3 linked regions of the Homo sapiens genome follow. The protein of the gene in region 1 interacts with the protein of each later gene in a pairwise test. Each region holds a gene or a part of one and is shown on either strand. Other genes may lie near its edges.

Region 1 (7,097 bases):
AGGGACACTCCAGGCCCAGCTGAGGCTTCCTGCTCTGCATGGCAGGGGACATCTCTGACCTGGTCAGGACCCTGGAGGTGGGACAGCTGGTGCTAAGGGAATGTCAGCGCATCAGGGTTGGGGAGAAGCAGTGGGTGGTCCAGGAAACCCCTGAAACAGCTGGCCCTGGGGTCCCCTTTCAAGTGTTTCCAGTTGTGGCAAGGGGTCAAGGAGACCTTGCATTGCAAATCTCTTAGAAAAAACAAACTTAACCAAAAAAAAAAAAAAAGCCAACTGATCCAGAATGGCTTTCAGAAGCCTGGTCACCAGTCTGAGGGTGAGGCGCAGGGTCAGGAAGCCAGGGGCTGGGGGAGCTGGGGGATCCCTGGGGTAGTGGGGACATTTGGCTTTGAACTCAGAGCTGCGCCTTTGGGCTGGCGCGAGGTGGCCAAGGGCTCCTGGGAGGCAGGACAGGTGGGCTGCCTCCGCTCAGCAGGGAACATGCTGCGTGCTTCCGGATCAGGAGGCCGCGTGCTGTGGTGGCAGGCCGCTAAAGGGCGCTCGCTCTCTGGAAGCTGCACCGCCCAGGCCTGAGGGACCCCACGGCTTCCACCCTGGGGGAGGCTGCAGGCCGGAGAAGGGTCACTTGCTGCTGTGCGTCTTGACTTTGGTGGCGTTGATGTCAGCCTTGGTCTTCTGGATCCTGGAGAAGATCTCTTTGAAGAGCGCCTTGTACTCGGGCTGGCTCTGTTCCAGCCGCTTGTCCACGGCCTCCACGTGCTGGCTCAGGCTCTTCTCTCCTGCCTTGACCTCACCCTGGCCCTCCTCACCCCCGCGCAGGTCCCTCCACGAGCTGTCCCGGGAGATGGGGCGCGAGGTCTGCACGCCGGCGTGCCGCACTCCGGCCCCGTGCTGCCGGCACTTGCTCAGCAGCTCCTCGTACTTCTCCAGCAGCGCGTGGTACTGCTCGTCCACCTCCCGCAGGATGGACATGCCCCGCTTGCGCACGCTGTTGGCGTGCAGTGTGAGGTTGCCCGCGTGCCGGCTGGCTGGGTCTTTGGCCACGATGGCGTTGAGCGCAGTGTCGCTGCAGCTCTTGCGCACCACGTGGCCTGGAGAGGCTGCCGGTGAGGAGACCCCGTCCTGGGCGCCCAAGTCGTCCCCGCGGCCGGGCTGGGGATCGTCGGCCTCAGGGGCCTGCGTGAGGGGTGCGAGCAGGGCCTCGGCCAGGTGGTCGTCCGGACCCAGTAGGTAGGTCTTGGCCTGCTTCATCTGCTGCAGCTCCAGCAGCTCGGCCTCCAGCTCCTGCACACGCAGGCGACAGGCCTCCATCTCGCACAGCTGGCGCTCCAGCTCCGAGTACTCCTGCAGCACCGCGGTGTACTCGCGCTCCGCCCGCTCCTTGCGCTGCCGCTCCTGGCTCACCTGGGAGCGCAGCGCCCCCACCAGGGTCTGCAGCCGCTCGTTCTCCTGCTCCAGGGGCCGCGGGCCCAGCTCCAGGGAGGAACTGTGTAGGCGGAAAGCATCCTTGCACCTGGCGGGTAGTGAGAGTCGCAGCGGGGTGGGGGCGGAGGAGAGGGCAGTGGTCACGGGCACGGCCAAGGCCGAGCAGCCCAGCCAGGGCGCTTACATCTCTCTTGTTCTCTGGGCTGAAATTGTTTGCCCCTCTCCGTTGGCTCTCCACCCTCCTCCACCCTTCTCCCCCTGCTCTCTGCCCCCGGAGGCTGACCACTACGGACCGCCTCTGTCAGGTTGCCTGGTTCTCTCCTGAGCTTGGCCCATGAGAGGCACTGGCTAGAGGTCCGAGGGGGGAGCAGAGGCCGTGGGGTGTGTCTTCTTTGGGCTCTCCATGGTTAATGGTGACCAGGCAGCCTTCTCCATACCTTCCAGGTGCCGGTAACCTCCCTTCCCCCTTGCGCTTTGAGGCCTAGGGCTGGTGGCAGCTCCTCTCTGCTGCAACCCTGGGGCACTATAGTGTCCCTGTGGTTTCCCTACCCCCTGCCCACACCTCTTCTTCATTTAACTTCTCCATTACTCTGTGTAAGAGACTGTTTCCTGCCAGGACCCTTATTGAAACACCCACTACATATGACACATGTATTTTTCCATTATTAAGTGGTTGTCTAGTGTTAGATTTAATGGGAACTGAAAAGCACAGTGGGTTACCCCTCCTGGGTTAGCATGCTGGCTGAGCCTCTTACTAAACAGGTGACCTTGGATAAGACACACAACCTCTGGGCTTCAGTTTTATCATCTGGAGAGTAGGCATAATAAAACACCCCCAACAGTGTTGCAATAAGAATTATATCAGCATAGTGGCAGCACACAGCCAGGGCTCAGTAAACGCCAGCTGCTGTGACTGTCATTAGCAACAGGACCAGTCTCTCTGATGGCCTGGATGATGCACCAACTGCACCCTGCTGCCTGCTGCCTCTCCTTCCTCCCATGGCTGGCAATCCCAGAGACACCAAGCAGTGCTCTCACCTACCGGGGGCTGGTGCACAGCTCCTTGAGGCAGGGGAAGGTGTGGATGGTACGCCTGCGTTCCCGCTTCTCCCGGAGCACTCGCAGCTGTTCCAGGCCTCTCAGTTGCTCCACCTGGGCCTGCAGCTCCTCCACCTGAGCCTGGAGGCGCTCAATGGTCTCCGTCAGCCTGGGGGCGGGGTGGTGGACACACAGGGACTTTAAGGGGATGGGGCCAGTTTGCCTCACGGCAGCCCTGGCTCCCTGAAGATGGAGGGACGTTGGGTAGGAGGCAGACAGGTACCCTTGAGCCGCTGTCTGGTCCTGAGGTAGGATGGGGAATTCTATGCATGCCCAAGGACCCGCCCTTCTTTTGTACCTCTCAGGCGAGCTGATCGCTTCTCCTCTGTGCCACCTCAGTTCCTTGTCACTCCTCTATCACTTATTGTCCTGCACTGCCATAAAATATTTACATGCCTGCCTTCTCTTCCAGGCTGTGAGGTATTAGAGGGCAGGACAATGTCTTTGTTTCCCCATCGTTGCATCCCCAGTGTCTAAAGAAGAGCCTGGTGCATAGTTGGTGCTTAAAGCAAGGTTGCGGCCTGAATGTTAAACCACACAAAATCGACAAGGACAAGCTCACTCCCATCCCCGGTTCCTAGGGAGACGTGCACAAGTCACACCCATCAGTCCATGGGCCCCTGTGTACACTCAGCCCTGGGGCTCTCCCTCGCCCGCCCCCCAGCCCTCAGCCGGGCCCTCACCCATGGATCTTCTGCTGGGCAGCCTTACTCTCCAGCACCAGCCTGTGGTTGGTCAGCTCCAGGTCCCGGGCTGTCAGGTCCAGCTGCTCATAGACTTTGGCGTGCTGCTCGTTCACGTGCCGCAGCGTGTCCAGCTGCTTGGTTAGGTACTGGGGGTGGAAGGACATTGAGTAACTTTTTAGAATTGGGCAGGGGCAAATGTCTCTGCCTAGACCCTCCTACTTCTTTTTTTGTCTTTTTTCTTTTCTTTTCTTTTGATACAGAGTCTCACTGTGTTGCCCAGGCTGAAGTGCAGTGGCATGATTTCGGCTTACTGCAACCTCTGCCTCCTGGGTTCAAGTGATTTTCATGCTTCAGCCTCCTGAGTAGCTGGAACTATAGGTGCCTGCCACCATGCCTGGCTAATTTTGGTATTTTTAGTAGAGACAGGGTTTCACTATATTGGCCAGGTTGGTCTTGAACTCCTGACCTCAAGTGATCTGCCTACCTCTGCCTCCCAAAGGGCTGGGATTATAGGCATGCACCACCACGCCAGCCTCTTTTTTTTTTAAATTAATTAATTTATTTTTTTTGAGACGGAGTCTTGCTCTCTCGCCCAGGCTGGAGTGCAGTGGCGCGACATCGGCTCACTGCAAGCTCCACCTCTTGGGTTCACGCCAACCATTCTCCTGCCTCAGCCTCCTGAGTAGCTGGGACTACTGGTGCCCACCACCATGCCTGGCTAATTTTTTGCATTTTTAGTAGAGATGGGGTTTCACCGTGTTAGCCAGGATGGTCTCGATCTCCTGACCTCGTGATCTGCCCGCCTTGGCCTCTCAAAGTGCTAGGATTACAGGTGTGAGCCACTGTGCCCGGCCTTTTTTTTTTTTTTTAACTTCTAAAATCTTTTTTATGCCCGGCGTGATGGCTCACACCTGTAATCTCAGCACTTTGGGAGGCTGAGGCGGGCAGATCACGAGGTCAGGAGATGGAGACCATCCTGGCTAACACAGTGAAACCTCGTCTCTACTAAAAATACAAAAAAAATTAACCGGGTGCGGTGGTGGGCGCCTGTAGTCCCAGCTACTCAGGAGGCTGAGGCAGGAGAATGGCGTGAACCCGGGAGGCAGAGCTGCAGTGAGCCCAGATCGCGCCACTGCACTCCAGCCTGGGTGACAGAGTGAGACTCCATTTCAAAAAAGAAATAAATCTTATTTATTTTATTTATTTATTTTTAAGACAGGGTCTCGCTCTGTTGCCTAGGCTGGAGTGCAGTGGCACAATCACGGCTCACTGCAGCCTCAACCTCCAGGCTCAAGCAATCCTCTCACTTCATCCTCTTGAGTAGCTGGGACCACAGGCTTATGCCACCATAGCCAGCTAATTTTTGTATTTTTTATAGAGACAAGGTTTCGCCATGTTGCCTGGGCTCAAGTATTTCACCCACCTTGGCCTCCCAAAGTGCTGGGATTACAAGCATGAGCCAGCAGCCCCTTCTCCCCTTCTAAGGACAAGTTTGCTTTGATGTATTTGTCTTCAGCTGAGTGGGGCTTAAAAATGGTGGTTCAGGCTGGGCCTGGTGGCTCATGCCTGTAATCCTAGCACTTTAGGACGCTGAGGTGGGAGGATCACTTGAGCTCAGGAGTTAGAGACCAGCCTGGGCAACATGGTGAGACTTGGTGTCTATTTAAAAAAAAAAAAAATCTAGTTGTGCAATAGGGCTGCCTGAGATAGCTGTGCTATCCTTGTACAGGATAGCACAGTTGTGAACTGTACCAGGCTATTGGGCTAAGGCTGTGTCCGATAAGCTGGCACCTTATTCTAAGTTGCATAAAGGCACACACAGGCCAAGGGGCCCTCGAGGGGTGTGGGCAAGCACATGCAGGGCCCTCACCTCGATCTCCTGCACCTGTTCCTCATTGGTGGAGTACATCTGCTGCAGGGACCCCTCCAGCTCCTTGTTCCTCTCCAGCAGAGTCTTCCCCAGCTCCGCAGCTAGGTGCAAGTCTAGGATAGGAGAAACACGAGCATGAGAACAAAGGCAGAGGACGCCCATTCATGTTCCGAGCATCTACTCTAGGTGACCCCAATGTAACCAAGACACTGGGAGCCTCCAGGCCTGGGAGGAGAGGTAAGCCAGGAGCTAAGCCTTTGCACTGTTATTTCTGCCTGGAATGTTCTTTTTGTGTGTGTCTGTGTGTGTGTGTGTGTGTGTGTGTGTGCAAGATGTAATAAAAAACAAACAAAAATAGGAATGGTTGCTTTCAACATTTTCCAGGTTGTGAAAGTTTTGCCACGATTCTCAGGGGTGTGGTTCTAAGCTGCATCAGTGGAACAAATACAAAATGCTGTCCTCCTCCTAGGCTGGAAGGCAGTGCACCTTCTCCTCTTAACAGCCAGACTAGCGGGTGAGGAGTCAGTGCTGTGCCCAGGCCAAGCTGGAGTGTCCGCATGGCTTCTTCTCTGACCAGTGGGGATTCCATCTACCTTGAGGCATGCTGGCTGGGCCCTGTTTCCACACCAGCGCATGGTGAGACAGCGTAGCTTATCAACAGGCTGCTGGGCCTTAATACTGACAGTGAGTGTGGCGGATCACAGCCAGGAAGGGACTAACACAGATGCCCTCCCAGCCCCACTGCTGGCCTAATTTTAGAATACCACGGAAAAAAGCTTTGATGAAGACAACAGGAAGTCAACACAGCAGAGAGTGGTGTGGACAACCCAGAAGCCAGCCTCACGCACGGAATATTCTTTCCTGATACTTCCAGGACTTGTTCCCTCTTCTCCTTCAAGTCTGTGCCTGTCAACTTCTCTAGATCTTTCCCCAATCACTTGATTCAAAGTCACACTGTTCCCTGCCCTGCAGTCTCTCCCCCGCTTCATCTTTCTCCTTAGCACTTAGCACCATCTAATTTCCCAAGCAAGTTACTCCTTTATCTTTTTCAGCTCCCCCAACTAACTGTGAGCTCATGGGGCAGTTTTTTTTTTCTTTTAAGGGATGGGACCCAGGCTGGGGTGCAGTGAGTATTCACAGGTGTGATCATATGTGCTGCAGCCTTGAACTCCTGGGCTCAACGATCTTCCTCCCTCAGCCTCCCAGGGCAACATAGTGAGACCTCATCTCTATTAAAAAAAAAAGAAAGGTGGTGCAATACGGCTGCCTGGGATAGGATCCCTTGAGCCCAGGAACTCAAGGCTACAGTGTATATGATCATGCCTGTGAATAGGCGTGGGACTATAATATCGGTTGCTGGGACTACAGGAATAGTACAATGTTTTTTTTTTGAGACGGAGTTTTGCTCTTTTTGCTCAGGCTGGAGTGCAGTGGCGCGATCTTGGCTCACTGCAACCTCCGCCTCCCAGGTTCACGCTAACCATTCTCCTGCCTCAGCCTCCCAGGTAGCTGAGACTACAGGCGCCCGCCACCATGCCTGGCTAATTTTTTTTTATTTTTAGTAGAGACGGGGTTTCACCGTGTTAGCCAGGATGGTCTCAATCTCCTGACCTCGTGATCCACCCGCCTCGGCCTCCCAAAGTGCTGGGATTACAGGCGTGAGCCACCGTGCCCGGTACTTTTTTTTTTTTTTTTTTAACTTCTAAAATCTTTTTTATGCCGGGATTACAGGCACCCACTACCACGCCCGGCTAATTTTTTGTATTTTTAGTAGAGAGGGGGTCTCACCATGTCGGCCAGGCTGGTCTTGAACTCCTGATCTCAGGCCTCCCAAAATGCTGGGATTACAGGCATAAGCCACCACACCTGGGCTAAAATTCTTAAATTTTTTTTGTAGAGACAGGGTCTTGTTATATTGCCCAGGCTAGTATTGAACTCCTGGCCTCAAGCGACCCTCCTACCTTGGCCTCAAAATGCTGGTATTACAGGCGTGAGCCACCGCACCTGGCAGGGCAGGG
Region 2 (7,822 bases), on another chromosome or scaffold:
TGGTTCTAGGGTAAGAAAGTTTTGTGGTAGAAATATCAAATAGCTAAATCCAGAATATGTACTCTCACATTACTCAATAAACGTACCATGGATTCAAAGGATGAAACAGCCACTTATGCTTTCTTGTTTTTTCAATCTTTTAGGGTCCGAAAATGTCTTTTTCTTATTTACCACCTGTGCCGCTTGGTTTCAAGTCAAAGTTTTTCTATTCAAAGGCAATGCAGCTGAAGCTTAGAGCTCTGCCCAGAAAAATTCATTTCTGGGATGTGGTGTTTCAAATCTTTATACAGTTTCCCAAATACAAATTTCCCTATTTTCTCTGTATACTCTGGGTTCATTTTTGCTTTCCTTCACCTGATTTTGCTTTTATCTGGTGGCCTTAATACCCAGATCCTTGCACCAGCATACCTGAGTTCTTCTTTGAACCTGGTGTCTCCAAAAGGCTTCCCCAGTTTTTTGTAATACTGCCCTCCTCGTCACAAACATAGAGTTCCTAATCTTCCATTCAGGATCACAACCTCAATGTATATGCCAGGTATATAATTAGCATAATAAGTCTTACCTTAAAAAATACATCTGCATTTTAAAGTTGGTTCCTCCTAGAGCCTCAGCAAGCTGAACACCCCCAAATCTACCATCATCCTCATGGAAGGATGCTGTTAACCAAGGACATGCACGTAGGTGAAGACTAAGCAGCATGTAATACAAATGTGCCTTTATCATCATATATCCCACGACCCTCACCTCCGCTGACACCATCTATGGCTCCTCACTAATTGGATGAATTCCCAAACTCTCAAGCACAGTTTAAAACCAGTCAGACCTTTAGCTTCTGTTGTCTGGCTCCACTCTTGGTTTCCTCTATTCCACAAGCAAAAACTCTCAGCTCCAGTCAGGTTTTTCTTCTCATTATTCTAATCAGGCGTTTCTCATCCCTGCGCCATGAGCTTGGTCTTGCCTTCTTCCCTTATTCGAACCTTACCCAATCTCTGCAGCTTGATTCAAATCTCACATCCTCTCTGAAGTCTTCTTTACCCATTTCAGCTCACCCTCTTCCAACTGCCCACTCATATGTCATGTACTGTATGAGTCCCACCTTTCACCCTCAGTCACAATTTATCTTGTACCATTACTTCTCTTCAGAACCTTTTTTAAATCCAAAAAGTAGAGAGGAATATAGAATTCTTTCACCAAGTTCTATTACCCTGAAATAAACAGTCTTAAATACTGGAATGTGTCCTTTTCTATGCATTTGCAATCGTATATACACATGTATACACATGTGCACACATAGAGTTGATATAAGCCCATATATTTTATTTACCTTAGACAAGCAGAAGGTAGTATGAGATAGCAGAGAACACAGGCAGATCTGGTTGTTAATTTTTTTTTTTTTTTTTTTGAGACAGAGTCTTGCTTTTGTTGCCCAGGCGGGAGTGCAGTGGTGCGATCTCGGCTCACTTGCAACCTCTGCCTCCCAGGTTCAAGCAATCCTCCTGCCTCAGCTTCCGGAGTAGCTGGGATTACAGGGACCCACCACCACTCCTGGCTCATTTTTGCATTTTTAGTAGGATGGAGTTTCACCATATGGGTCAGGCTGGTCTCGAACTCCCGACCTCACGTGATCTGCCCACCTCGGCCTCCCAAAGTGCTGGGATTACAGGCATGAACCATAGTGCCAGGCCATCTGTGAATTTTAACGCAGTGATCTTGGGCAAGTTAGTTGATTTTTCTAAGCCTCAAGCTCATATATGAAATGAGGTCAACAACTGCCTTGCCAACTTGTTGAGAATATTAAATGAGATAATGCATACAAAGTGTTTTTGCACAAAACCTGGCATATAAACATGCAAATTAATCTTTTAATAAGATAATGTACAATTTTGGTACAATGGTAGTTTAATTAATAGTTGCTACTTTCCCTTAGGGCCAAGACTGTAATCTTTTTCTATTGCTCAAAGAACAAGATGAGTGGGTGAAAACATGCACACAAACCAATAAAACGGCTGTTTCATCAGGTTTGCAGAAACACTGAAAGATATACGTCTTCAGATATATTCTCTCCAATCAAATCCTAACTAGAAGCCCAGGACTACTGAGGTACAAAAGAAGGACGGGATTCAAATGAGCGAAGTAACTTCCCGGGTTATAGCTGTAAAGCTAATATAGGAACAGAGTGGAGTTAGCATAGCAAAGGTTTTAAGAAAATGGAGTCTGGAGCCAAATTGCCTGTATTTGAATCCTGCCTACACCCCTTACTCGCTCTACGACCTTGGGCAAGTTACTAACTTCATTTTCTTCTTGTATGTTAATTTTAAAAAGGGGCGGGACAGAGAGGTGGGGTGTAGTCTACATAATAATAGTGTCTATCTCATAGAGTTATGAGAAGCAGATAATATTTGTAAAGTGCTTAGAACAGTGCTGGGCTGGCACATAGTAGATGCTATTTATTCTTTTAAAAAATTCGATAGCAGCAAGAGCCTTTATACTATGTGAGTTAGACTAAGAAAGGCTGTGGCATAGTTTAAAACTATCCCTGCTCATTCTTTAAAATAAGTCCACAGTAGAGAATAAGACATCGGAAAATACAAACATTTCTTCATATCCGAATCTATTTGAATCCTAAGATGCAGATACGGAGAGTTCAGAGTGCCATCAGTACAGGGCAGAGAGGTTGAAGAGCTCAGGAACAGACATAGGGTGGGGGAAAGGGGTAGGGGCAACGACGCTGACTTTTGGTTAACAAAGCCCTTCCAGGCTGCGGAGCAACCTCCTCTGCCCTTCACCTGCCCGGCCCATCTCTGGCCAAGAAGACCCTGCCGCCAAATCCCCACACCCAGTCCAGGTCGCAGTGCACAGACTGGCCCTTCCGAAGCCCCTCAGCGGTAGCCCGACTCCGAAGCTCACCGAGGCATCCGTGAGAGGAGATGCCACCTAGCGCAGATCACATCTGCTCTGAATCCTTGACAACCGCAGCCCAAAGAATGATAAACTACAAAGGCCGGAAATGCGTCACCGCGGCCCGCTCTCCGCGAAACAGCGGTTCCGGCTGTGTTCCTTCTAGGAAGGCCGGAGGTTTCCACACCTCTGTGGTCGTCACTCTGAATCCCGTCTGTAGTCTTAAGTGAGATACTAGGTGACACATTGTCTTCCACGCGGCAATATAATAACGGCCAACATAGTGTTTTAACACGTATTAATTCATTACCCCGCATAACAACCCTGTGAGTTAGGTACAATTATCTCCATTTAACAGGTGAGGAAACTGAAGCACATTTCTACATTTATTAGTTGCCATTTCCTGCAAAGAATACCCTTTCTTTTCCCTGCCGTCTCATTTTATCACGATGAACTCATGGATTCCTTTACAAATAATTACTGTTATTATTATGTTGATGCTCAAATTATTTAAAATTTGGTCAGTTGGAGCCCTTTCACACTGCTCCCTCTCTTTTCTTTTTTTGACAAAGTCTCCAGGCTGGAGTGCAGTGGATGCGATCTCAGCTCACTGCAACCTCCGCATTCCGGGTTCAAGTGATCCTCCTGTCTCGGCCTCCTGAGTATCTGGGATTACAAGAACACACCACTATGCCTTAGTGAGGCTGGTCTTGAACTCCTGTCCCTCAAGTGATCCGCTCCCTCGGCCTCCGAAAGGGCTGGGATTACAGAAGTGAGCCACCGCACCCGGCCACAAACAGGTTTCTATGTCCTTTGATAAGTTCCCAACAGTTTTTGTGCACTTCACTTTCTCACAAAAGATATTTCAGTCCCATTTTATACTATTCCTACCCTAAACCTAGAATCACCATTGCTTCATGAAGCTACAGTACATCAGTGAAAAATGGTATATAGAAACCAAGATCTGGATTTCGGGCAATGAATAACCTCATTGCTACTGTGTCTGGCATTGGTTCCTGCCAGTCTACTGTGTCCAGAATTGGCTCCTTCCAGTGGGTTCCTGCTCTGACTTCAAGAATGAAGCCGCGGATACTCACGGTGAGCATTACAGTTCTTAAAGATGGTGTGTCTGGACTTTGTTCCTTCTGCTGTTCAGATGCGTCCAGAGTTTCTTCCTTCCGGTGGGTTCGTGGTCTCACTTGACTTCAGGAGTGAGGTCGTAAACCTTTGCAGTGAGTGTTACAACTCCTAAGGGTGGCGTGCCTGCAGTTGCTTCTTCCTTCTGGTGGGTTCGTGGTCTCGCTGACTTAAGGACTGAAGCTGCAGACCATCGTAGTGAGCATTACAATGCTTAAAAGTAGTGCAGACCCAAAAACTGAAAAGTGGTAAGGTTTTATTGTGAAAAGGGAAAGAACAAAGATCCCACAGCACAAAAATCAATGCTAGCAGGTTGTCACTGCTGACTGGGGCGGGGGTGGTAGCCAGCTTTTATTCCCTTATTCAGCCCCGCCCACATCCTGCTGATTGGCCCATTTTACAGAGTGCTGATTGGTCCATCTTTACAGAGTGCCGCTTGGTGTGTTTACAAACCTTTAGCTAGACACAGAGTGCTGATTGGTGCATTTTTACAGAGTGCTGATTGGTGCATTTACAAATCTTCAGCTAGACACAGAGTGCTGATTGGTGCATTTACAAATCTTCAGCTAGACACAGTGCTGATTGGTGTGTTTACAATCCTTTAGCTAGACAGAAAAGTTCTCCATGTCCCCACCCTAACCGGAAGCCCAGCCAGCTTCACCTCTCACTACTAGGACATATTATTGCCTCTAGGCTCCTTCAGTGTACAAGAGCTAGAATATATGAATATGTTATATATATAATATATTATATATAATACGTATTATATATTATCCTATATATCATATATTATATATTATATATAATACATATTACATATTATCCTATATATTATATATTATATACGGAGGATTTTATATTATATATATGTGTATTATATATAACATATATAATATATTATATACTATATATTATGTACATAATATATATTATATACAGATATAAAATCCTCCATATACATATATAATATATATATGGAGGATTTTATAAGATACTTTCTGTTCAAAAACAACTCCACAGAATTCTTTTACATTTTTCACCGTTGCACATTTGTTTTTTTTCTTTTCACCCACAGTGAAAACTCTGGCTCCCAACAGCATAAATAAATTCACTCAAACAAAATAGTTTCTTATAAACAAAATAGTTTCAAGATTATAATACCAATACATCACTAGCAATAACATATCTACTATGTAGAATTCAAAATTTCTTTGCTTGTTTTGTTTTTGAATTATATCCCATTAAGGGAGTATAGCTGTATAAATACCTTATTTGAATTAATTATTTTCTCTGTGGTTATATTTTAAACGATATATGGTTAGGAGCATTTGTTTCTGTTTATATTCCATTTCAGGGTTTGCTTTCATCCCTTTTTAATTTTTTTGACAATTCAAAACATTTACTTAGTTCAAAATCCACACTATATAAAAAGGTATGTTTAGAGGAGTTCTGCTTCCATCCCCAGTCCCTTTACCACATATACTCATACCCAATTTTCATTATTTATTTATCCTCTCCTTCCTTCCTTCTTCATTCCCTCCTCCCTTCCCTACTTTTTCTCTTTTTTCTTGCAAAAATGAGTATTTATCTTCTGTACCCCATAAGTTATGTTATATACATTCTTTCATGCCTTGCTTTATCATCTAACAGAAAAGCCTAGAAATGTCCTGTTTTTGAAGTAGTCCTCTTTTTTCACACCTGCATAATAACTCATTCTGTGGATGTACCATAATTTTTTTAACCAGTTTCTTGGGGGTGGGTATTTGGATTACTTCCAATATTTTGCTTTAACAAATAATGCTGCAATGAACAATAAGAGAGAGACTTTTGTAGAGGTTGTGTTATTTTGTACTCTCAACAGCAAAGTGTGAGAGTGCCTGTCTTCACACAGCCTCATGATCTGTATGTTTTCAGGCTTTTACATATTGCCAGTATGATAGGTCCTTTGATATTTCTTAAGGAATCACAAACGCAATGCTGAAATCCCTGCTAGAAATGGATTCACAGTGCCAAATTTCAGCAAGGATTATGGAACAATGGGAATTTTCACATATTTTTCATGAGAGTGTACATTGGTGAAACCATTTTGGGGAAACTCTGGCATATCTACTAAAGTTGAATGTATGCGTATTCTGTGACCCAGCCACCAGAAACGCATATGTGCTTGCATCTAAAGACATGTCTTAGAAGCATTTTTTGGTGATTGCTTTAAACTGGAAACAACCCTAATGTCCATTAACAGTAGGATGGGTTTTAAAAAAAAGTTTATTCAGACAACTGAATACTATGTAACAACGAAAATGAATGAACTACAGCTACAAACCACGTTGATAAATTTCACAAACATAATAGTAAAAGGAGCCAGAATAGTGAGTAAAAGAAGACAAAAAACACGACATTTGACCTCTCGTCCCTGAGAGGCGGGTGGTTGTTAGTTCAGGGGGTTATGGGAGGGCTCTGGCATCCGGGATGGAGGCGCGTCGCTTTCTGTGGCTGGCGCTGGATCCACCCTGGGTCTCCAGCCACGGCTGCAGAGAGGGTAGCGCGGTTTCTTAGGCCAGAGTGGAGTGGGACAGGAGGTGCCCAGAGACGACTGTGGTGGCTTGAGACATGGAAGCGCTGCAGCCTTTGAGCCCAGTATCCAGCATTGCAGCCGCCGCGGCGGTCTAAGAGCTCAAACCCTTTCAGGCGCGCGCAGGAGGAGGAGCGGCGGGGGCGGCGGAACAAGACGACCCTCACTTAACGTGGCCGCTGTCGCCGTGGGCATGCTGGGGGCGTCCTACGCTGCCGTTCCCCTTTATCGGCTCTATTGCCAGACTACTGGACTTGGAGGATCAGCAGTTTCAGGTCATGCCTCAGACCAGATTGAAAACATGGTGCCTGTTAAGGATCGAATCATTAAAATTAACTTTGATGCAGATGTGCATGCAAGTCTTCAGTGGAACTTTAGACTTCAGCAAACAGAAATATATGTGGTGCCAGGAGACACTGCACTGGGGTTTTACAGAGCTAAGAATCCTGCTGACAAACCACTAATTGGAATTTCTACATACAATGTTGTTCCATTTGAAGCTGGACAGTATTTCAATAAAATACAGTGCTTCTGTTTTGAAGAACAAAGGCTTAATCCCCAAGAGGAAGTAGATATGCCAGTGTTTTTCTACATTGATCCTGAATTTGCTAAAGACCCAAGAATGATTAATGTTGATCTTATCACTCTTTCTTACACTTTTTTTGAAGCAAAGGAAGGGCACAATTTGCCAGTTCCAGGATATAACTGAAGTCAGCAACTAAGTCTTCCTTCAAAGTTGTGATTTTTGGGAAAATCATGTATCCTATCTTCTCAAAGGAGAAATATTGTACAATAATATGAAGACTTATATTTTAAATAATTATTTTTTCTCAACTAATTTATTTCACTTAAAATTGAGAGAACAAGTTCAGCTTTTATCATAACAAACCCACATGCCTAGCTAGAATATATGAGTGACTATTCAATACCATACTGAAGAGTTTGATAGCATTAAAATAAGCCGCTTTGTTTTTTAAATATGCAGGCATGGGTTCAGCTTAATTCTATAATTCCCTTCCAGATTATTAACTCTTCATACTTATAGCAAAGAATCTGACAATGTTTTTCAAAAATGAATGCTCAGGGTTATTTGTTTCAAGTCATAGGCCAGAACTTCTGACCATGTTTATTATGTCTAAAAGAGTTGGTTGCTATTTTCCTTCATTATAAACAGTCAGTATTTTAAAAGCTCAAAGTAGAAGAGGAGTCACCAAG
Region 3 (7,000 bases), on another chromosome or scaffold:
TTGAGAGTTAGGGCCTGCTTATTTATCTTCATTTTAAAGTTAGAAACAAGGTTTTGTGTGCTTAAAAAATCCTTTACATTGCATTTCTAAGTTTTACATGAGGTACATTTAAAAGTAGTATAGTGCCTGCCCATAGTAGATGCTCAATAAATGTTGTTTCGTTTATCTTTATTTTTGTTTCTCCCTCCCATCTGGTGTACCTGCCTTCTGAACCTCATTATTTGTAAGAGGGCGAATGGGGTCAAGGAGTATCATTAGATAGTTTTGGTGTCTTGCAGGTGCATCCTTTCCTTCCTTCATATAGAGCTTGTAAATAAATCTAAGACAGTGAATGGTGACATCTGCTAATGGTCTCAGCTACCTCACCTGTGGTAAAAAGTGGTTGTTCCTTGCTGCATCTGACTGTATTCTTCTGGTTCAGGAGTTTCAGAAGGAGCTGAGCCAGTGGAGGAAAGACCCAAGTGGAAGCAAGAAGAAGCCCAAATACTCTTACAAGACCGTGGAAGAGTTGAAGGCCAAGGGCAGGATTAGCAAGAAGCTCACTGCTCCCCAGAAGGAACTTTCTCAAGTCAAGGTACAGGGGCCCTTGGACACCTGGTACAGGATCCACACCCCAGAAATAATCACTGAACATGTTCGAGGGTTTTTTGGATCTTTTAGCTAGGCTTTTTTTTTTTTTTTTTTTTTTGGTACCTTGCTTTTCTCACTTATTTATAGGAGTGTAATGAATAGGAACATGCTCACATAGTATTAATATCATGTTCCTATTCATTACACTCCCATATTTAGTAATAGTTACCAAGTTCCTTCTCTGCTAGGCACTCTTCACGGCACTACACTGGTAAACCAAATGATGTTCCTGTGTTTCTGGAGCTTACATCAGTGAATTTAATAACATTCTTGTTATTAAAAACTCAGTGCAAAGTGTTTATAATGAGCACGTAATTCCAGAGAGTGGCTGTGCTGTATTATTTGATCCTACCTCCGTTGTTAGACATTTAGCTTTTATCTGGTTTAGTTTGGGTTTTTGGCTGGTTAGTTTGTATATAAAACTTTGTCTTTGTTTCAGACATTTTTTAAGGATAGACATGTACATGTGCAATCACCATGTTGAATACAAAAGTACTTAAGGCATTTAAATACTCAGAAGGTTGTATTAACTCTCTCTGACCAGGAGGGCAGGAGAGAGTCCCCAGGGCTCCTTAGCCAGCATTGAGTATTTTCTTTTTTTAAGATAGATTAAATTTTCAGCCACTGTTACGTCCATGTAGTGTATTAAGTTTTCCATTACTTGGCTGGGGATGGTGGCTCACGCCTGTAATCCCAGCACTTTGGGAGGCCTAGGCGGGCAGATCACAAGGTCAGGAGATCGAGACCGTCCTGTAACATGGTGAAACCCCGTCTCTACTAAAAATACAAAAAATTAGCCGGATGTGATGGTGGGCGCCTGTAGTCCCAGCTACTCGGGAGGCTGAGGCAGGAGAATGGCATTTACTCAGGAGGCGGAGCTTGCAGTGAGCGGAAATCGTGCCACTGCACTCCAGCCTGGGGGACAGAGCGAGACTCCGTCTCAAAAAAAAAAAAAAAAAAAAAAAGTTTTCCGTTACTTTTCCAAGTAGTCAAAGAACAGTGGTGACAGTTGCCTGTTGTCATTTGCTGTAGGATATGTAGTGTGTCATAGACCTCAAAGAAAGCCTTTAGTGGGGTTCTCAAACGTGCTGTTATCTGGACGACCTGATAAGAAATAAGAGTGTCTAGGTGCCTCCCAGGAATTGAGTCTAGACTGAACCTCAGGACTCTTTTTTTTTTTTTCCTCCAGTGAGTCTAAAGCTGGTGGTTCATGGATCACACTCTTACTTAAAAAGTGGTGATGAATCATTCTGTTTCAGAAGTGTAGTCCGTATTCACATTTCCTGTTTTCCTAAAATATTGGAATTAGCTCATTGTCTAGGTTGCCTTTGTTCAGTTAGCCTTTTGTATATTTTATTTTGTTTTAAAATTAAAAGGCTGGGCGCAGTGGCTCATGCCTGTAATCCCAGCATTTTGGGAGGCTGAGGCAGGCGGATCACAAGGTCAGGAGATTGAGACCTTCCTGGCTAACACAGTGAAACCCCATCCCTACTAAAAATACAAAAAATTAGCCAAGTGTAGTGACGGGCGCCTGTAGTCCCAGCTACTTGGGAGGCTGAGGCAGGAGAATGGCTTAAACCCAGGAGGCGGAGCTTGCAGTGAGCTGAGATCGTGCCACTGCATTCCAGCCTGGGCAACAGAGCGAGATTCTGTCTCAAAATAAATAAATAAATTAAATTTAAAAAAACTTTGTTATTACACAGCAGTGTGTAGTACATTTTAGAAAATTAGGAAATAGGCAAAAATGTAGAAAATATTTTCCATCCTTCCAAGATTACCAAATGTTAACATCTTGTTATACATCCTAGATCTTTTTCTATGCTTATGTGCATTTTTTAAATCAAAATGTGATATTCTGATTGTATGTTACCTTCTTTGATCAGTACAGCTTCTACCTTTCCATTAAAATAAATTTTCACATCTACTAATACTCAGTCCCTATTTAAATTTCATGTTTCCCTAAAAAGTCTTCTCCATCTGGCTTGTTCACAGTGATCCAACCTAGAACTGCTTGCTGCATCTGATTTTGTCCCTGGAGTCTCCTTTAGGCTAGGACAGTATGGTTCCCACTTTACAACACTGCCCTTCTCCAGCTCTGTTGAATAATGTGGTTTCTACACACTTCCCCTGTCATGGGGCCTTCCCCTGGGCTTAGCTGTGTGTTTAACAGGGCTGCAGCGGTGTTAACCTTCATCCCTCTATGTTTTCCAAGGTCATAGACATGACAGGCCGGGAGCAGAAGGTCTACTACAGCTACAGTCAGATCAGCCACAAGCACAACGTTCCCGATGATGGGCTGCCGCTACAGTCCCAACAGCTGCCACAGTCTGGCAAAGAGGCCAAGGCCCCCGGCTTCGCGCTGCCCGAGCTGGAGCACAACCTGCAGCTGCTCATCGACCTCACGGAGCAGGAGATCATCCAGAATGACCGGCAGCTACAGTATGAGCGGGACATGGTGGTCAACCTCTTCCACGAGCTGGAGAAGATGACCGAGGTCCTGGACCACGAGGAGCGGGTCATCTCGAACCTCAGCAAGGTCCTGGAGATGGTGGAGGAGTGCGAGCGGCGGATGCAGCCCGACTGCAGCAACCCCCTCACCCTGGACGAGTGTGCCCGCATCTTCGAAACCCTGCAGGACAAGTACTATGAGGAGTACAGGATGTCCGACCGTGTGGACCTTGCTGTGGCCATCGTCTATCCACTCATGAAGGAGTACTTCAAGGAGTGGGATCCCCTCAAAGTGAGTTGCTGGGAAAATCAACCTATCCCTGCCTCTCGGTTGGGCTTACCCTTGCTTGATGAGTTGGTTCAATGGGCAGGGAGGGCTGGAGAGCCCGCTGCCCCTCAACTGCTCACCTTTCTCCTCAGGACTGCACTTATGGCACCGAGATCATCTCTAAGTGGAAAAGCCTCCTAGAGAATGACCAGCTCTTGTCCCATGGCGGACAGGACCTCTCAGCAGATGCCTTTCACAGGTACACCACAGAGCAGGGCTCTGTACCCCAGCTCCTTTCTCCTGGGGGGTTGGGAAGGATTGCTGAAGGTGGGGGAAGGCAGCAGTGCTGGCCTTGATTAATTCTCTGCTCATGCTGACAGTGCTTTAGGAATTTAAATTCATTTGGCTATGAATTTTTTTTTTTTAATTTTTTTGAAATGTTTTATTTCCATAGGGTTTGGGGAACAGGTAGTATTTGGTTACATGAGTAAGTTCTTTAGTGGTGATTTGTGAGATTTTGGTGTACCCATCTCCTGAGAAGTATACATTGAATCCAATTTGTAGTCTTTTTTTTTTTTTTTTTTTTGAGATGGAGTCTCACTCTGTCACCAGGCTGGAGTGCAGTGGCGTGATCGCAGCTCACTGCAACCGCCAACTGCCTGGTTCAAGCGATTCTCCTGCCTCAGCCTCCCAAGTAGCTGGGATCACAGGCACACGCCACCACGCCCAGCTAATTTTTGTATTTTTAGTAGAGACAGGGTTTCACCATGTTGGCCAGAATGATCTCAATCTCCTGACCTCGTGATCCACCCGCCTTGGCCTCCAAAAAAATGCTGGGATTCCAGGCGTGAGCCACCGTGCCTGGTTCAATTTGTAGTCTTTTATCCCTCACCCCCTTCCCATCCTTTCCCCGAGTCCCCAAAGTCCATTGTGTCATTCTTATGCCTTTGCATCCTCATAACTTAGCTTCCACTTATAAGTGAGAACATAAGATGTTTGGTTTTCCATTCTTGAGTTACTTCACTTAGAATAATAGTCTCCAATTCCAACCAACTTGCTGCGAATGCCATTATTTCATTCCTTTTTATGGCTGAGTCATATTCCATTATATTTATACCACAGTTTCTTTATCCACTTGTTGATTGGTGGGCATTTGGGTTGGTTCCACATATTTGCAACTGCGAATTGTGCTGCTGTAAATTTGTGTGAGCAAGTATCTTTCTCGTATATGACTTTTTTTTTTTTTTTTTTTTGAGATGAAGTCTTGCTTTGTCGCCAGGCTGGAGTGCAGTGGCACGATCTCGGCTCACTGCAACCTCTGCCTCCCGGGTTCAAGCGATTCTCCTGCCTCAGCCTCTCGAGTAGCTGGGACTACAGGCGCTCGCCACCATGCCCAGCTAATTTTTGTATTTTTAGTAGAGACAGGGTTTCACCATGTTGGCCAGGATGGTCTCGATCTCTTGACCTCGTGATCCGCCTGCCTTGGCCTCCCAGAGTGCTGGAATTACAGGCGTGAGCCTCCGTGCCCAGCCATGACTTCTTTTCCTCTGGGTAGATACCCAGTAGTGGGATTGCTGGATCAAATGGTAGTTGTACTTTTAGTTCTCTAAGGAATCTCCACACTGTTTTCCATAGTGGTTGTACAATTACATTTGGCCATGAATTCAGCTGACACTTGTCAAATGTCTGTTGCGTATCATGCTTGTGCTAGGTGCTGGGCTTACCCTAGGAGCACAGCAGACAGCCTCTGTCTACAGTACAGCAAAAAAAGCAGATGGGAAGTAAGGTAGTGAACAAATAAAGGCAGGATGCACACCAGGTACAGCGATAGAGAACTGCAGGAGCAACCTACTTGGAACGGGGGTTGGCACAGAGGTCTTAGGGGAGGTGACGTTGAAATTGTGATAAGAGGGTGAGAGGCATCAGCTCATGAATAGAAGCCTATAGGTGGGAAAGCACTTGATACCTGGGAAGAGGCCCTTGTGACCCTAAAGCAGCTCTGCCAGGTGGATGGGCACTACCTAGGAGACTGAGGCCTCAGATTGAGAGGAGAGTCAAGAGAACAAGGAAGAGGCAGGCTCAGTCTGGCCAGTATGGTGACTGGCCTGATGGTTTCCTCTGATTGGATTTCCATGCTGTTGCATTTTTATTCCTGATTCTAGAGAGGCAGGTGGTGGTGGTGTACTTTGAAACCAGTCAGTGTAATTAACCAGCCTGTCCTCTGCCTTTCTCCCATAGGTTGATATGGGAAGTCTGGATGCCTTTTGTTCGAAATATTGTCACCCAGTGGCAGCCAAGGAACTGTGACCCGATGGTGGACTTTTTGGATAGTTGGGTGCACATTATTCCTGTGTGGATCTTAGATAACATACTGGACCAACTCATCTTCCCCAAGCTGCAAAAGGAGGTGGGATGAGAGTCATGGGAAACAGTCGTCATCACTAATCACAGGGACTTGTTCAGTCTGTGGCTTCATTATCTCAGTGCTGTTAAAACGCCTGGAATTAACGGAATTTGTCAACACAACTATTGACCTATAGTGTTAATTCCAGCCTTTTTCTCAGCACTTTTTCCCCCAAGCCACCCTCAGGAGGGAATTCATTTTCTTGATTTTGTCACTAAAATTAGAATTGTGCTGTTTCTGAGATGTAATCAAATGGATGGGCATATTTGTTTGGCAATGTACAAAGGACTGTGGGCCTCAGAGAGCACAGGGCCTCCTCCAGGGGCAGCTCTTGCCTTTAGCCACACAGGGGTGTTATGTGACTGCCCCACAGGCGACATGAACTGTTTCTCCTCCCCACTTCGCAGGTGGAAAACTGGAACCCGCTCACAGACACTGTTCCCATCCACTCTTGGATCCACCCATGGCTGCCCCTTATGCAGGCACGGCTGGAGCCACTCTATTCCCCCATCCGTAGTAAGCTGTCCAGCGCCCTGCAGAAGTGGCACCCCAGCGACTCCTCTGCCAAGCTCATCCTCCAGCCCTGGAAGGATGTCTTCACTCCTGGCTCCTGGGAAGCATTCATGGTCAAAAACATAGTGCCCAAGCTGGGTAAGGATAAGGGGAAATGCATTCCAAGCCCAGCAGCTTTGGTGCCCTGGTTTCTGTGGTTAGCAGTGATGATTTAAAGCATCGCCTTTATGTTCATGAAAGTGCTTAGTACACAATATTCCTTGCTGTGAAAAAGGTAACATTTTGTTCAGAGGCTGAACATAAATGTAACTTGGGTCCTTTCCGCTGTTTATTTACAACAGTCACTAATAGTCGACAGTGACAATATCGGACTCTGTGCCTTGTGGTTTTCCCGATTGGTTTTGGCTTCTGGTAATAGGACAGCCATTGGAGTTCTAAAATTTTTGTGGTATTTTACTCTAAATTATTAGGGAGTTATTTCCAGGTTAGCAAAAAAAATATATATACATACACACACACACACACACATATATGTATATATATACACACATGCATATACATGTATATATACACATGTATATACACATATATGTATATACACACATATATATGTATATATGTATACACACACACACATATATATATGTGTATATATATACACATATATATTTTAAGAATCGCTATGTCGGGAGCTTAAATTTGACCTTTAAAAGCAGATTACAGCCTGAGCAACATGG

What was found.
Region 2: the proteins of CDR2L (region 1) and ZSCAN23 interact in binary tests that used the Homo sapiens proteins (3 or more experiments, as listed by UniProt).
Region 3: the proteins of CDR2L (region 1) and TFIP11 interact in binary tests that used the Homo sapiens proteins (3 or more experiments, as listed by UniProt).

The regions. Positions count from the first base shown.
Region 1 is NC_000017.11:74,997,599-75,004,695, reverse strand, and holds part of CDR2L (cerebellar degeneration-related protein 2-like), read right to left. Parts: intron 5,193-7,097; coding exon 5,080-5,192; intron 3,356-5,079; coding exon 3,207-3,355; intron 2,633-3,206; coding exon 2,468-2,632; intron 1,514-2,467; coding exon 622-1,513; 3' UTR 1-621.
Region 2 is NC_000006.12:28,440,492-28,448,313, forward strand, and holds the start of ZSCAN23 (zinc finger and SCAN domain-containing protein 23), read right to left. Parts: upstream 3,001-7,822; 5' UTR 2,908-3,000; exon of another isoform or gene 1-2,907. UniProt on the Homo sapiens protein: May be involved in transcriptional regulation.
Region 3 is NC_000022.11:26,495,474-26,502,473, reverse strand, and holds part of TFIP11 (tuftelin-interacting protein 11), read left to right. Parts: intron 1-421; coding exon 422-574; intron 575-2,842; coding exon 2,843-3,370; intron 3,371-3,498; coding exon 3,499-3,605; intron 3,606-5,584; coding exon 5,585-5,753; intron 5,754-6,157; coding exon 6,158-6,401; intron 6,402-7,000. UniProt on the Homo sapiens protein: Involved in pre-mRNA splicing, specifically in spliceosome disassembly during late-stage splicing events. Intron turnover seems to proceed through reactions in two lariat-intron associated complexes termed Intron Large (IL) and Intron Small (IS).